2 separate regions of the Homo sapiens genome follow, and region 1 is reported to be linked to region 2. The links are microRNA targets in miRTarBase. Many come from high-throughput screens and were not tested one by one. Region 2 holds a microRNA gene; the other region holds the end of a gene's coding sequence.

Region 1 (7,120 bases), not on the chromosome of region 2:
TGTTGAGATTACAGGCGTAAGCCACCATGTCCAGCCAATTCTTACTTGTTTTTATCCTTTTTAAATGTATATAAAGCTCATATTAATCTCAATGTTTAATTTTAGAAGTGTTTTGGGTCTTTATTAGAAATTTGGTAGTGTTTTTGTAACCAGAAATATATGCCATAGGGACTTAACTCTTATTTATATCAGTTCACCTATGGTAAAATTGATTTCATTATATGTTGTTTTTCTTAAACTCGCAGTTTCCCAGAACCTATCAACAACATTGAGGACTTATTGTATTATAAATTATCTTTATATGAATATAAAGACTTTCCCTATTTCAATTGCGAATATACAGATCTGTGCACTCAAAAATAACAAGCCTATTAGGACTCAAACAGTTATTTGTATACCCACGTTCACAGAAGCATTATTCACAATAGCCAAAAAGCAGAAGCAACCCAGTGTCCATTAATGGATGAACTGATAAACAAAATACGGTATTTACATACTACGGCATATTTGGCCTTTAAGAGGAAAGAAATTCTAATACATGCTACAACATGAATGAACTTTGAAGACATTATGGTAAATGAAATAAGAATGAATCCATTTAGATATCCAGAGTAGTCAATTCATAGAGACTGAATGCTGGTTACCAGAGGCTGAGGAGAGAGGAGGTAATGGGTGGTTATTGTTTAATGAATACATAATTTCAGTTTGGGAAGATGAAGAGTTCTGTAGACGGATGGTGGTGGTGGTTGCACAATAGTATGAATATACTTAATGCCACAGAATTGAACACTTAAAACTGGTTAAAGTGGTGAATTTTACGATATGCATATTTAATCACAATAAAAAATGCTTATTAAAAGATGTACTAGTTATGAAATAGCATACCTCATCTGTTTCAAACTGGGTGTGGCTAACAATGAGGTAGAAAAGCAGCAAGCAGGTACAGAGATTTATAATGGCTGCTCTAGGTCCTATCGGGTAAAGGGATCAGCAGATGTGAAGTCAAGAGTCTCCTGTAAGATTTGACTTTCTTGGAAACATATTTTAATCCTGGGCCTCCTCTTTCCAAATCACCTATTTCTTTTAGTCTTTTTGCAGTGATACTGTGTGTTGCTTCTAACAGAGGTTCAGTTTCACAGCCTTTCCCTCAAGTGTCTTATCCTAAAAGTAAAACCTAGATGATCTAAGGTGGTGGTTTTCAACAGGGTGCAATTTTGCCTCCTATACTCGCAACACCCAGGGACAGTTGGCTATGTCTGGAGACATTTTTGGGTTGTCACAACTGGAAGTAGGGTGGGGAGTGGTGCTAATGACATCAAGTGGGCATAAGCCAATTATGCTGCTAGAAATCCTACAATGCACAGGATAGGCTCCCACAAACAAAGACTTAACCAACCCCAAATACTAACAATGCTTGGTTTGAGAAACCCTGTTCTAAGGTTTTTCTAAGTTGCTTGATTTATGGTAGAAACTGATCATAAGTTAAAAGTTTCCTCCTTTTGGATTGCTTGAGCCCAGGAGTTTGAGGCTATGGTGCATTATGATTATGCCTGTGAATAGTCACTGTAATCTAGCCACTGCAATCTATATTAAGAAACATAGGCCGGGCGCAGTGGCTCACGCCTGTAATCCCAGCACTTTGGGAGGCCAAGGCGGGTGGATCACGAGGTCAGGAGATCGAGACCATCCTGGCTAACACGGTGAAACCCTGTCTCTACTAAAAAAAAACAAAAAAAATTAGCTGGGCGTGCTAGCGGGCACCTGTAGTCCCAGCTACTCAGGAGGCTGAGGCAGGAGAATGGCGTGAACCCGGGAGGCGGAGCTTGCAGTGAGCCGAGATCGCGCCACTGCATTCCAGCCTGGGTGACAGAGCAAGACTCTGTCTCAAAAAAAAAAAAAAAAAAAAGAAAGAAAAGAAAAGAAAAAAGAAAAAGGAAACATAGTGAGACCCTGTTTCTTTAAAAAAAAAAAAAAAGTTTCTTCCTCTTATTCCTTACTTTCTCTTCTCATTTATTTTGAGGAAATAGGATAAGAACCAGTGGTAATACTTTAGGTGAAAGGAGGCTACTTATGTTATCATTCTCTTCACCCTGGCCGATCCTAACCATGACACTTTATATCCTGGGGGATGGTGAAAAACAGAGGAGGTGGGGTAGGACTTGTGGTCAAATTGTTGGGGACAGAGGCAAAAAAGAAAACAGCAACAAAAAAATACAAATGAAGAAATTGGAAGGCAGTGCCTATGCCATCTGAATTGGATAATTCTTCCTAATGGCCATTTGGATATAGATGAGTTGGACAGACATAATTTAGAAACCTATATAAGGAAATATCATGCATTTTAATGAGGTTATAACCCAAAATTTAAAATTCAATTAAAAAATTAAATCACAGATTTTCCCACAACATACTAATTCAACATACTACTTACGATTACTTAAAATTTGCATTTTTTCTAAGGAGCAATAACCTAATGAGTATGTAATACTAATGTGTCAGTTAATAAGGGCAATTACTTTTGCTCTTATTTTCCTGTTATATGAAATTAACAACATACCTGCTGCAATATAACTCATTTGGTACAATTTAGGTGTTTCGAGAAATTCAACCCACTAAGATCATTAGCGTAATTCATTTTTATGCTACACATTAAAATGGTGCCTTCTTACAGTCACTTTGGAAAACTGTTTGACAGTAAATACTAAAACTGAAAATATACACACCCTACAACCTGGCAATTCCATTCTTAGGTTTATACTCAATGGAAATGTATACACTCACCAAAAGACATGTATAAGAATGTTCTACACAGTACTATTCATAATAGCTCAGAATTGAAAAATTCTCAAAAGACTATTAATGGGAGAATGAATAACTTTTGGATGTAATGAAAAATGGATAAACAAACGGAAGACTATACAGCAATGAGAATGAATGAACTACAAATACATGCAACAATAAGAATGGATCTCACTTTGGCAGGTTGAATAACGGCCTCCAAAGATAGCCAGCGTATGAATCCCTGGAACCTGTGAATGTCACTTATATGGCAAAAGAGATTCTGCAGATGTGATTAAATTAAGGATCTTGAGATAGGGGGATTATCCCTGCTTTATGCAGGTGAGCCCTAAACTTAGAGGCAGGGAAAGATCTGACTACAGAAGAGAAGATGATATAATGACAAAAGCAAGCTTTGATCATAGAGAGGAAGGGGTCACAAGCCCATAAATACAGGCCGTCACTGGAAGCCAAAAAAGGGAAGAAAACATTCTCCCTCACAACCTCAATAAAGAGCCAACCCTGCTGATACTTTGATTTAGGCCTAATGAAACTGATTTTTGGACTTCTGATCTCCAGGACTATAAAAGAATAAATCTGTGTTGTTTTAAGTCACTAAGTTTGTGGTAGTTTGTTACAGTGGCAACAAGAAACTAAAATATTCACAAAAATGATGAATGAAAAAAAGTGTATTATGTATGATTACATTTACATAAAATAAAAAACAGGCAAAACTAATCTATGATTTTAGAAGTCAGGATAGTAACTTTCAGCAAGAAAGAAGACAGTGTTAAGATGGGGAAAGAGGAGGGCTTCTGGGGTACACATAATGCTCTGTGTTTTGATCTGAAGACTAGTATGTGAGTTTGTTTAATTTGTGAAAACCTTTATTTGTGTACTGTTTTGTGTGTGTGTGGTATATGCAGTTTTAAAAACTGATGCCTTTTAAACACTTACTAATCTGATAATCTGCCGAAAAAGAATATATAACATATATTCAAGGGGATGGAAAAATACTTACTGAACAATAATTTTATTTCTCAAGAACGCTGAAGATTTTGTTTCTCTCTTCAAAAGATTTAAAAAATTTTAACTGGCAAAACATAATAGTGACTCTTAAATGCTAAAAAAAAAAAAAAAAAAAAAAAAAAAAGAAAAAACCTAAAAATAAAATATTGCATAAGTAAGCTTTGTTATGCCTCGATCTTAGGACTGTAAATTATAAAAATACAAGTAAAACCACATTTTTTGAAATAACAGTAAACAAAAACAAAAGGCAGGTACTACATACCAAATGACCAAAATGTCTTTTGGGCCTAAGATTCTTGAAAATAGTAAAAATGGTAATAATAGAAATCTCTCTATAGAACATTAAATATAAAAACCATTTATAAAACACATCACAATTTTATTGCTTGAAGAATACAGCATATGAAATCACAAGAATGTCAAAATGAAAAGTCACTAGGCTTCAAACGTATAATACATTATCAGATGCAGTAAAATATTAACCTGAACTCTGCATCAGAAAAAAAAAAAAAGGTGTGGAAAATATCTAAGTTGTTTACTTAAGAAACAGATATACTTAAAATAGAAAGTATAAGGATGTTACAGTACAAATTAGAAAAGCCAACACGTATTAACTTATCGTTCTAGACTAGACTACCTTTGGTACTTAAACTTTTTAAAAAACAATTTCTTCTATCTCATCCAAATGCACTTCATGGGTATGACATCCATGAAGTAACTTCAACTTAAAACATTCAGCAAAATTAACCTTTTCACTTCATGGGGGAAGTATATTTAATAAATGTATAACAATATTTCCCTTTTACTAAAACTGCAAAATATGATCATTAAGAAACCTAACAGTTATAAAACTTTACTTACTTAGCTCTCCAATTAAAATTGGAATCCTGGGAGCCACAATCTATTTTTGGGCTTGGTGAATACATAAGTTTAAAAGATTTGGCAACTGACATAGGAATTTAATTACTTAATACTATCTTAAGTGACTTTTCCTTTCTGTTTCCAAAATATAGACATTATGCCATTTCTTCAACATCCTGGATTCCTATAAACACTACCATACTGTATTTATTAGAACCAAATTAAAGCTTCTCTAACAAGCAGGTAGAAACTATTTATGTTCCATATACGGCTGATAAGTTATAACACAACTTATGTTTCATATAGGGCTGATCAGTTAATTCATATAGGGCTGATCAGTTGTAACATAACTTCTTAAGCAAAACTAATCTTTTTTTTAAAGCTATCACTCAATTATGGAGACAATAATGTCATCTCAAAAGGTAATGTTGGACTCTAGGCCATCTAGTTGGGAAAATGTAAAAGTAATTCTAAAAACAATAAGTAAACTATAACTACAAGTTAAATTAAAAATCCCTCTCTCATAGCAAGCATGCTCATTAACTTTCATTTCTTTCCCCCAGCAAAGGTTTGAATATTCATAAACCTCAGTTAAACCAAGAGAACCAATGTAATTGTTTCAAAAGTACCACCTATATATTTGAATAATATGAGTATGGATGGACTAGGTAAGTAATACTATCAACAATTACTGAATTGGAGTGAAAGAGTAAAAATCATGACAGACTTCCAAACTGGGCAGTCTTTGAAATGTCATAGTGGAGCTCAAAATGAATTATGCTGTAATAAAACTATAGTTTTTACCTCTACACAAAACAGAAACAAAATAAAAAAACATAACCACCAAATTTATACAAATACTATTAAACATACTCCTTCCTAGTTTTTGAATGTCTTGAAGTTTTTCTAAACAAGTATATTGATCTGAGCATATATATTTATTGCCTATATATGTACTCATTTTAAAAGACAAATTCAGATACTACAGAACTGAACTCTTTCACCAACCCAATCCAATGTCTACTGATTCACACAGCACCCCCCCCTTAATAATTTAAAATTCACAAGTTTTAGTTTAGTTAAAAGGGCAGAGGAAATGCAAATGCAGATTTAGAGCTTTGTAGAAATTTCACTGTATTTTTATAAACTTGAAGTTATCTGTAACACTGTTTATTGATCAAACGAAGGACTCGCTGCTATCTAAAATTTCATAAACACCATTAAAAATTCAAAATTGATATTATACTGAACCTTAAATTTTCAATAGTTCAAAGAGACAGTTTTTACATGTATAGCACACAATAGATGAAACTTAATAGCAGACATCCCTAGAATACCAATGACAAGTCCACCAAGATGCATACAAAATTACAGATAAGCATTTCTTTCACTGTTTTTGTTGTGCAGGGAAAAACATTTATAGAAGAAATAGAAACTCAGCTGGTGAATTTCAGATATCATCATCATCTTCTTCATCCTGAGAAGATCCCGCCTGATTAGATGCACTGGCTGAGGCAGCAGCAAGCTGGGCTTGTTGGGCAGCTTGCTGCATTTGAAGCCATTCCTGTTGGGCCAATTCTGCTTGTTGCTGTCTAGCCTAAACACCCAAAACATAAAAAAAAATAACAATTTTTTACAAACCCACAATATATACACTTTGGTTAAATGTAGATTAGGCCAATTTCAGACAGTTTATTATCATACTTGGATACTGTCCAAGTACTATGTAATTGTCACACATCTGGAGAACATAAACTCTATAGGTAAATATAATTAGAGATTGCTTTTTTCTAACTACACAGGTCTAAGAAATTTCTCAAACTTGGATCTCTTATAAATGGCCCTGTTTTATTTCACGTAATTTATGACCTTTGATTCAACTGAAGAAGTTGAAAAAGTGGAACCAATATTGTGAAAAACCCACAATATTCCCTCTGGCTCTTTCCCTCTTCTTTTCCTTTCATTTCACTTGACTCTTCTGTACCCTCATATTACAACTTTGATACAAACATTTTTCAATCTAAAATTTATTTATATGGTTTAAAAGTTCTCTAGTATAGTACCTCTACCTCATAGGAAAGAAGTACTGTACATGTATGCAGTAGCTACCCCATTATTTCTTTCTGAGTTTCTATTACAATTCCCTAACCTACTATATGCCTATCTCTCTGTGTCCCTCATTCCCTCTCTGTAAGTACACACATTTGCATATACACACATACAAATATACATATCCTTCCCGTATACACACTAGTAAAAAGATACTACTTAAAATCCATTCATCTGATATATCCTCTATTAAAAACAACCACAGGATTTAAGAAACCAGGATGCATACATTATTAATTACCTATGAAACAGCTAAGGCTCCTTCACAATTTAATTTCATCTGTTTGCAGAAAAACCACACCAAGAAGGGAAAAAATGAACCTGTTCTTAAAAAGGTCTTACA
Region 2 (7,120 bases):
AAAAGCCTACGTGATGAGGCATGCTTCCAAAGGCACCATCTCTAGCCTCGTGTGAGGTCACCTGTGTTTCTGGAGCAGTAGGGTGTGTTTGCTGACATGCCGTGCCCCTGCCCCAGCCCATTTGTTGTTCTCTGAGTTCTGTCTGTCTGTGTGTACCGACACTCAGACGTGTCACCGTGCATGTCTGCTGTCCGCCAGCAAGGGTCACGTGCCCCCAAACTTTGCAGAAAACAGGAAGCCCCGTCAGTGAGAGGGCAGCCCAGTGATTCATCAGGGGATGACAGTCCCAGCTGTTCGTCCCCCATCCTCTGCACTGGGGTCACTGTCCAGGGTGGCTTCCTCCCCATGCCTCCCCTCCCCTCCCCGCCCGGTGGAGCAGAGCGGGCTTGGACTTTGCCTTATCACCTCTGGAGGCGGCCTGGCCAGACTCTGTTTGGGCCAAGTTTTTATTTATCTTCACTGGCTTTTTTTGGGGTGGGGAGGCTGAGGAATGTGGAGTGTTGTAATGTTTGGAAGAGGGCGGTGGGGAAAGGGGAGCCAGGTCTCCTGTCCTGCTTGTCCTGCTTACCCCTGCACCTTTGCAGGCTCCCGGCCCCCCTTGGTTCCCCAGTTCCCCCTGCCAAGCCCATATCAATATGGCCCATTGTCTTTCTCCAGCTCCCTGGGTCTGGTCCCATGCTCCTGGCCACACCTCACGTCTTGGCTACCGTTGTGGCTTCCAGTTGTTCAAAGCAGCTGTGGTGGCTTCCTCCAAAAGTGGCTACGGATCAGCAACAGATGAAACTCAAGGGGCTATTTATAGCAGGGTGGCCCTGGGGCCTGGAGCAGGGCCTAGGGCCTGGGGAGATTCAGGGACTCCTCATTAGGGACCAGTGAAATGGAGATGGGTGAACTGTTGGGTTTCTGTGTTCCTCTGAGGGGGCAGTTTTGGAACAGCCTGGTTTGGGTCTTGAAAACCAAACACAGTCACTCGTTGACTCCCAGCTCCACCCCTGTCTAATCCCCCCACCCCCAAGCTTGACTCATGCAAACTGGAGTCCTCAGGGCCAGAAGAGCTGTGAGACTTAGAAACTTCCCCCCAGTAGCCCCACTTGGCTCTTCCCTCCTTCACTGCTGAGGAGCTGCTCATTGGTCCGAGGCAGCTGGGACTCTGGGCAGAGCCTTCTTCCGGACAGCTGGATGGAGGGTCCCCCTCTTAGCAGAGCTGCTCTAACTTGGGGCTCAGCTGGGAGCTGGACCTCGGAACCCACCTATCCTGCCTCGTAGGCACTGCGGAGCCAGGAGAGGGGTGCAGGGGCTCCTCTTCTTGGAGACCCCGTGGTCAAGCCCCAGGTTGGAGTGTGAATCCTGCCTGGCCGTCAACTTCCCAGGGACTTGAGGGTAAGTTATTCTGTGCCTCAGTTTCTTCCTTTCTTGGCAGATTGTGGTCCTGTCTCTTTAAAGAAGAGGCTGCAACTTGGCGGTAGGAAAAGACCATTTTCTGAGAGGCACATGGGTGTTTGGAAGGTGTCAATGGGCTCAGGAGGTCTGAGAATCTAGAAACTGGCCTTCCCAATTCTGCATCCTGTGAGGTGACTGGAAGGATGGGTAGAGGCGATGCAGGGTGTTGGTTTTCTATAGAGGTGAATGTTTGGTTGTAACTACCCTTTTCATTTTTCTTGATACAAAAGTAACAACAAAAACAACAGCTGTCATCTGGTAAATACCAGGCATGATGCGAAGTGCCTTATATGCATAACTCCTTTGGATCCTCACTGCCAGCCTGAAGGTTGTCCCATTTTACATGTGACATTACAAGAGGCTCAGAGGGGTTAAGTAACTGGCAGGGCTGCCCAGCAGGATCCTGGAATCCAAACTCTGTGGTCTGTGGGCCTCTGACCCTGTGCTTTCACACCCGCCATGCCATCCTGCTGCCCTGGGATGGATTGGGCCCATTTGCTTAAGTTTGTACCACTCGACAGCTGTGAAAAGGGGAGTGGGTGAGATGGTTACTGTCTGCCACAGACAGTGGGGAGTGGGCCCTCAGGAGCATGGCTCACTGTCTTAGGCCTCGTCTTGGTTCCTGCATGCTCCACCTGCCTGTTCTGGTCTCTAAACTCAATTGAATGACTTGATGTTACAGCTTTCAAGCAGAGAAGTGTGGGGTGATGGTGGCAAGACAGAGGGGCGCCATTACTCTCATCGCTCCTTTTGTGGTGGCAGTCGTATTCTCCTCCTGGGGTTTCTCTTGTGTTGGCGAGTGTATCAAAGTGAAGTGTGTTTCCATTGATTCAGTAACTGTTGAGTGTGCCCTCAGTGTGGATGGCACCAGCCCAGTGGGGTGCACTCCTCAGCATTCGGGATTCTTCCTTTTGTCCCTCTGGGGCTTGCACACAGGCAGGCACACTCACGTGGAATCAGTGTTGATGGCTTTGGCTTCGGGCAGGCTGTGTTTTTGCAGGGGTTAGGGTGGCAGGGCCAGAATGTTGGCAAGGAAAGAAGAGGATCATGTTTGCCCCCGTGGACAGCTCTCTGGTGTGCTCCTCCTGCCATCCTGCCCACCCCTGCATAATGCTGCTTCTCTTCTCTCCTTCCCAGGGCTCCACCAGGGTCACCCCGAGTGTCCAGCCCCACCTCCAGCCCATCAGGTATGCCTGGCCCGTGGGGGCAGGGGGCGGGAGTGCAAGCAGGGGGGTCACTGTGGGTGTCCCTGTTAAGTCTTGCCTCTGGGTCCCCCGGACTGCAGCCATAAAGCCACGGGTGGGGAGTGTGGGCAAACGTGAAAGGCACAGGAGAGGATGCGTGCGGATGCCGTTGGCAACAGTTGTGTTTTGAGCTCTTAGCCAGCCCTTGAGCTGAGTCTTTATTTACCTGCATGAGCTCATCTAGTCCTTGCAACAACCCCGCAAGGTACGTATTTTATTCCCTTTGGTAGAGCAGCATTTCAGAGAGATGAGGTGACTTGTAAAGGTCACACAGCCACCAAGAGGCAGCACTTGGATTTGCGTTTAGGGCTGATGAGCATTGAGGCCTGTGCTGGATCTCTTCCTCTCTGCAGACAGGATTCTGACTGGGCAGAGTCATTTATGAAAGGGAAGTTCCCTATCTGGCTGGGCTGGCAGGGGCCGGGGGAAGGGGATGCACAAGGGACTTTGTGTCCTGGCGATCCAGAGAGTTTGTTTTGCCCTCTCTGCCTCACCTTCACCCACTGAGGCTCCTGAGATGATTGGGGATGCCAGCCCTGCAGTAGAGTTGAAGCCCCTGGAAGTTTCTGGCCCAGCTGCCAGCTGTCCACAGACTGGAGGTGGCTCCTTAGAGGATCCCCTCCTTCCCTTAGACCTGGGCAGGTGGATGCAGAGTGTGATGCTGAGGCTGTCCGGCTGGTGGCACTGTTCTGCATTTGCGTCCTTCCTGGGATCCAGCCTGTAGACAGGGGCGGGTCAGTGCCCCAGATGGGCCACGTCTGACTCATGGCCCTCACCAGCACGGCCCCTCTTGCTCCCCTTCCTGTGCTGAGGGAGAGGCTGAAATCACAGGAGCTTGTCTTGCGAGTTTTTCTGACATTCTAGTTTCTTCCTTGGAGCCAGAACAGAGAGGGGTTTTGGAGGATGGGGAGGAGGGGATGCTGCAAGTTAGCTGAGGCTCCCCGCCCTCACACCCACTTGCTTGCAGGTATGTGTGCGTGTGGCTTCTTGTCCCAGACTGGTCACCACCTACAAGAACTGTCCTTGGGTAGGCAGTTGGCTTGAGATAGAAACTTCTCCCCCACAGCTGCAATGAGAAGCTTTCCATAGGGACAAGAAGTAGCTGGGACTCAGAGTCAAACTCAAACCGGGCTCCTTACCTCTGGGTGCTGGTCCCCAGTCCCACTCAGGCCCCTGTCATCCCAACAGAGAGGTCCTGCCATGCCTCATCCTTGGCTGCCCCATCTCCACACCCCACCTGGACTGGGATTGAACCCTGGTGGAGGTCTGGATTCCTCATGGCTTCTCAGCATCTGGGGGCTTGTTCTGTCTAGTGCCAGAGAGCCCTCATCACTTTTAAATACCCCAGTGGTATTCCTTTCGCTGCCCTCCACTCTCCACTTTATCCCGCTGTGGTGAAAGGTTAGCAGAATGAAATGTCAGTGCTGCCTGCATTTGATAGAGGGGGAAGCGAGACACTAGGAGGTCAATGATTGGGGAAAAAGCTGGAGGGATGGGGGAGGTGCTTCTAGAAGCAAGAGGTGGGCTTCCCAAGTGGGCATCCTGGACCCTTCCTCTGGAAGAAAAGTTGGGAGAGATGTAAAGATGCGAGCCCCTCCCTTCCTCACCCAGTGCCCAGTGGAGAGGATGGCCAGCCCAGGGGCCTCCCCACCTCTCCGGGAAACGCATGGTGCTGGCGGCTGCCCGCCACTGCAGCAACAAGGGCTCTGTGCCCTCTTGTTTTCTGGGCCCTTAGAAATCAGGGAGGCTGCTGCCAAGAAGCAGCTCTGGCAGGCAGTGGGAGCTGCCAGAGGTGGGGAGAAGGCCAAGGAACAAAGGGCAGGAGTTGGCCTGCCTCCGGGAGGGCTGGAATGTGTGCTGTGGTCTGGCTTACCTGGAACCCAGGTGAACGTGTCACCTGAGATGCCCCCTCCCCTGAGAGGTTTCCCGCCCACTCCACAGCTCGAGAGCTAGGGGCGGGCAGTGGGAAGTCTCCGTTCCAGGGCTGGAGAGCGCCCAGCGCAGGCTCTCCTTCCTCTTCCAGAGCAGTCTGGGGCCTTTCGGGAGACTTCTGCCTGGCCAGGCAGCCAGTGTTGGGAGCCAGAGCTCCTGGGTTCCTGGGCCAGTCTGGCCCTGGCTCTGAGCTCTGGAGTCACAGGTTGAAGGCAGTGGCCAAAGGACTGATGGGAACCAAGAATTGGTGTCATCACAGTTTGGTTCTGAAATGGCCTGAGGTCCTTGCCAGCCCTACCCAGCTTGTTCTCGCCGGCACTCCCAAGCCGGCCACATTGGCCTTGCCAGAGGAAGCCTGTGGCCTTGGCCTTGGGTTGAAGAGCAGCCAAGCACCCTGGGCTGCATATGGGGGTCACACAGGGTGTGTATGGGGTGCAGCTATCTGGGGCCTTCCCTGTGGGCTGGATTCTGATATGGACCCTCCGCTGCCTGCTGTCTCCCTAGAAACATGAGTGTGAGCCGGACCATGGAGGACAGCTGTGAGCTGGACCTGGTGTACGTCACAGAGAGGATCATCGCTGTCTCCTTCCCCAGCACAGCCAATGAGGAGAACTTCCGGAGCAACCTCCGTGAGGTGGCGCAGATGCTCAAGTCCAAACATGGAGGCAACTACCTGGTGAGGATGGATCCTCGTGCCCACTGTCCTGTGCCCTCTATGCTTCCATCTGCTCACCACCTCTACATGACTGGTATCCCTGCCACCAGCCCCTGTGCCAGCATGCCCTCTTCTCTTTGTTTATCTGCCTTTCCCCTCAGGCAGCTCTCGTGCCTGAGTCTTCAATCACTCTCCAGCCCAGCTCTCCTCTAAGGAGTGTGCTGCAGCTGGAATGTAGCATCTGGAACTCTGTGTGTGCATGTGTGTGCTGGCCAGGAGAAGAGAGTACCAATAAGAGTTCAGGTTATTGAGCGCTTGCTACTAGCCAGGCCCTGTTCCAACTGCTTTCCACGCACTTAACCTTTGCAGCAGCCCTAGCAAGCAGGCACTTGCCAGAGCACAGAGAGGTGGGGTTATTTGCCTAAGGTTGCAGGGTCAGGAAGTGGCAGAGCTGGCACAGGGTCGGTGCCTCTGAGAAGTCTGAGGGCAGAGTCTTGGCAACATGTGTCTTAAGGGACCCTGGGTTGCTGGCACCTGGCTCGGCCTGGCCCAGAGGAGTCACCTTGGCACACGGGAGAGAGGTGCTGGCGGTGGTCTCCACTAACGCAGAAAGGCTGATCCGTCCTTGGCCCCAGAGGAGGGCTCAGGTCCATTTTAGAGGGAGGTGCCTGTGGACTGGACCCACAGATCTGATCTGTACAACCTCAGGTGGCTGTCCCCAGGGTGTTTGAGGTGGGATGTAGGAGGCTGCATTAGTTTCCCAGGGCCACTGTAGCAAATGAGGTGGCCCTTTCTATCCATGGGTTTCACCTCTTTGGACTCAATCCATCATGAGTTGAAAATATTCAGAAAAAACCCAACAGTAAATAACAATAAAAAACAATACAAATAAAAACAATACAGCAGAACAACTATTTGCAGAGCGTTTATATTGTATTAGGTATTACAAGTAACCTAGAGATGATTTAAAGTCTACGGAAGTATATGCATAAGTTATATGCAAATAGTACATTTTTTATATGCAAGTTATATGTAAATAGTACATATTTTATGTAAGAGACCTGAGCACCCATGGATTTTGGTATCCACTATCCATGGCGGGGTGGAGGGGTCCTAGATCCAAATCCTCCATAGACACCAAGTGATGACTCTACCTCAAATCTGGTGGCTCAAAATAACAGAAATTTATTCTCTCACAGTTCTGAAGGCTGGAAATCTGAAATCAAGGTGTTGACGGGGCCATGCTCCCTCTGAATCCTATGGCAGAGAATCCCTTCTTGCCTTTTCCTAGCTTGCGGTGGGATTCCTTGGTTTGTAGCGCATCACTCCAATCTCTACCTCCATCTCCACGTGGCCTTCTTCAGTGTCTCTCTGTGTGTCTTCTCTTCCTACAAGGACATCAATTATTGGACTTAGGGTCCACCCTAGATCCAGGTTGATGTCATATTGAGATCCTTAACTACTTACACTGGCAAAGGCACTATTTCCAAATAAGGTTGTATTCTGAAGTTCTGGGTGGACATGACGTTTTGAGGATACTATTCAACCACTATAGAGACCCACCTGTTAGCTGCATTGGGGCATTGTTAAGAGCTTGGCTTTAAACCTCAGAAAGTCCTGGGTTCAAATTCTGGCTCTGCCTTTACTAACTACATGATCTTAGCTGTTTAGCCTCACTAAGCCCTAGCTTCTGTGTCCGTAAAGTGGGTCTGAGGTCTACCTCTTATTGTTGTTGAGAGAATTAAGCCAGCTGTTAGATGTAAAGTCCTTAAGACAGGCTGACAGGTGGCAGACATTCATTGAGTGATGGCTATTGTACCATAATAAAGTGTATTCCTTTACAGAGTGC

The links. Region 2 holds the annotated microRNA hsa-miR-6809-3p (CUUCUCUUCUCUCCUUCCCAG, at 2,557-2,577, shown strand). A microRNA usually pairs through its seed, bases 2 to 8, with sites in the 3' UTR of a target mRNA and lowers its output. Matches are read on the target gene's strand: a 7mer-m8 pairs with bases 2 to 8, a 7mer-A1 pairs with bases 2 to 7 and ends in A, and an 8mer does both.
Region 1: the mRNA of DR1 is a reported target of hsa-miR-6809-3p. Seed matches in the 3' UTR shown: 7mer-A1 at 3,840-3,846, 7mer-m8 at 2,080-2,086 and 8mer at 1,998-2,005.

Annotation. Positions count from the first base shown.
Region 1 is chr1:93,359,638-93,366,757 of GRCh38, reverse strand. DR1 (down-regulator of transcription 1) reads right to left here. Exons shown (of 3, transcript NM_001938.3): 3 at 1-6,265. The coding sequence ends at 6,119. Among named protein-coding and RNA genes, the nearest start is that of DR1, 17 kb to the right of the region's middle.
Region 2 is chr2:217,895,970-217,903,089 of GRCh38, reverse strand. It overlaps MIR6809 (microRNA 6809), which reads left to right and starts at 2,462; the gene lies at 2,462-2,577. It overlaps TNS1 (tensin 1), which reads left to right. Exons shown (of 33, transcript NM_001387777.1): 7 at 2,578-2,627; 8 at 5,121-5,292.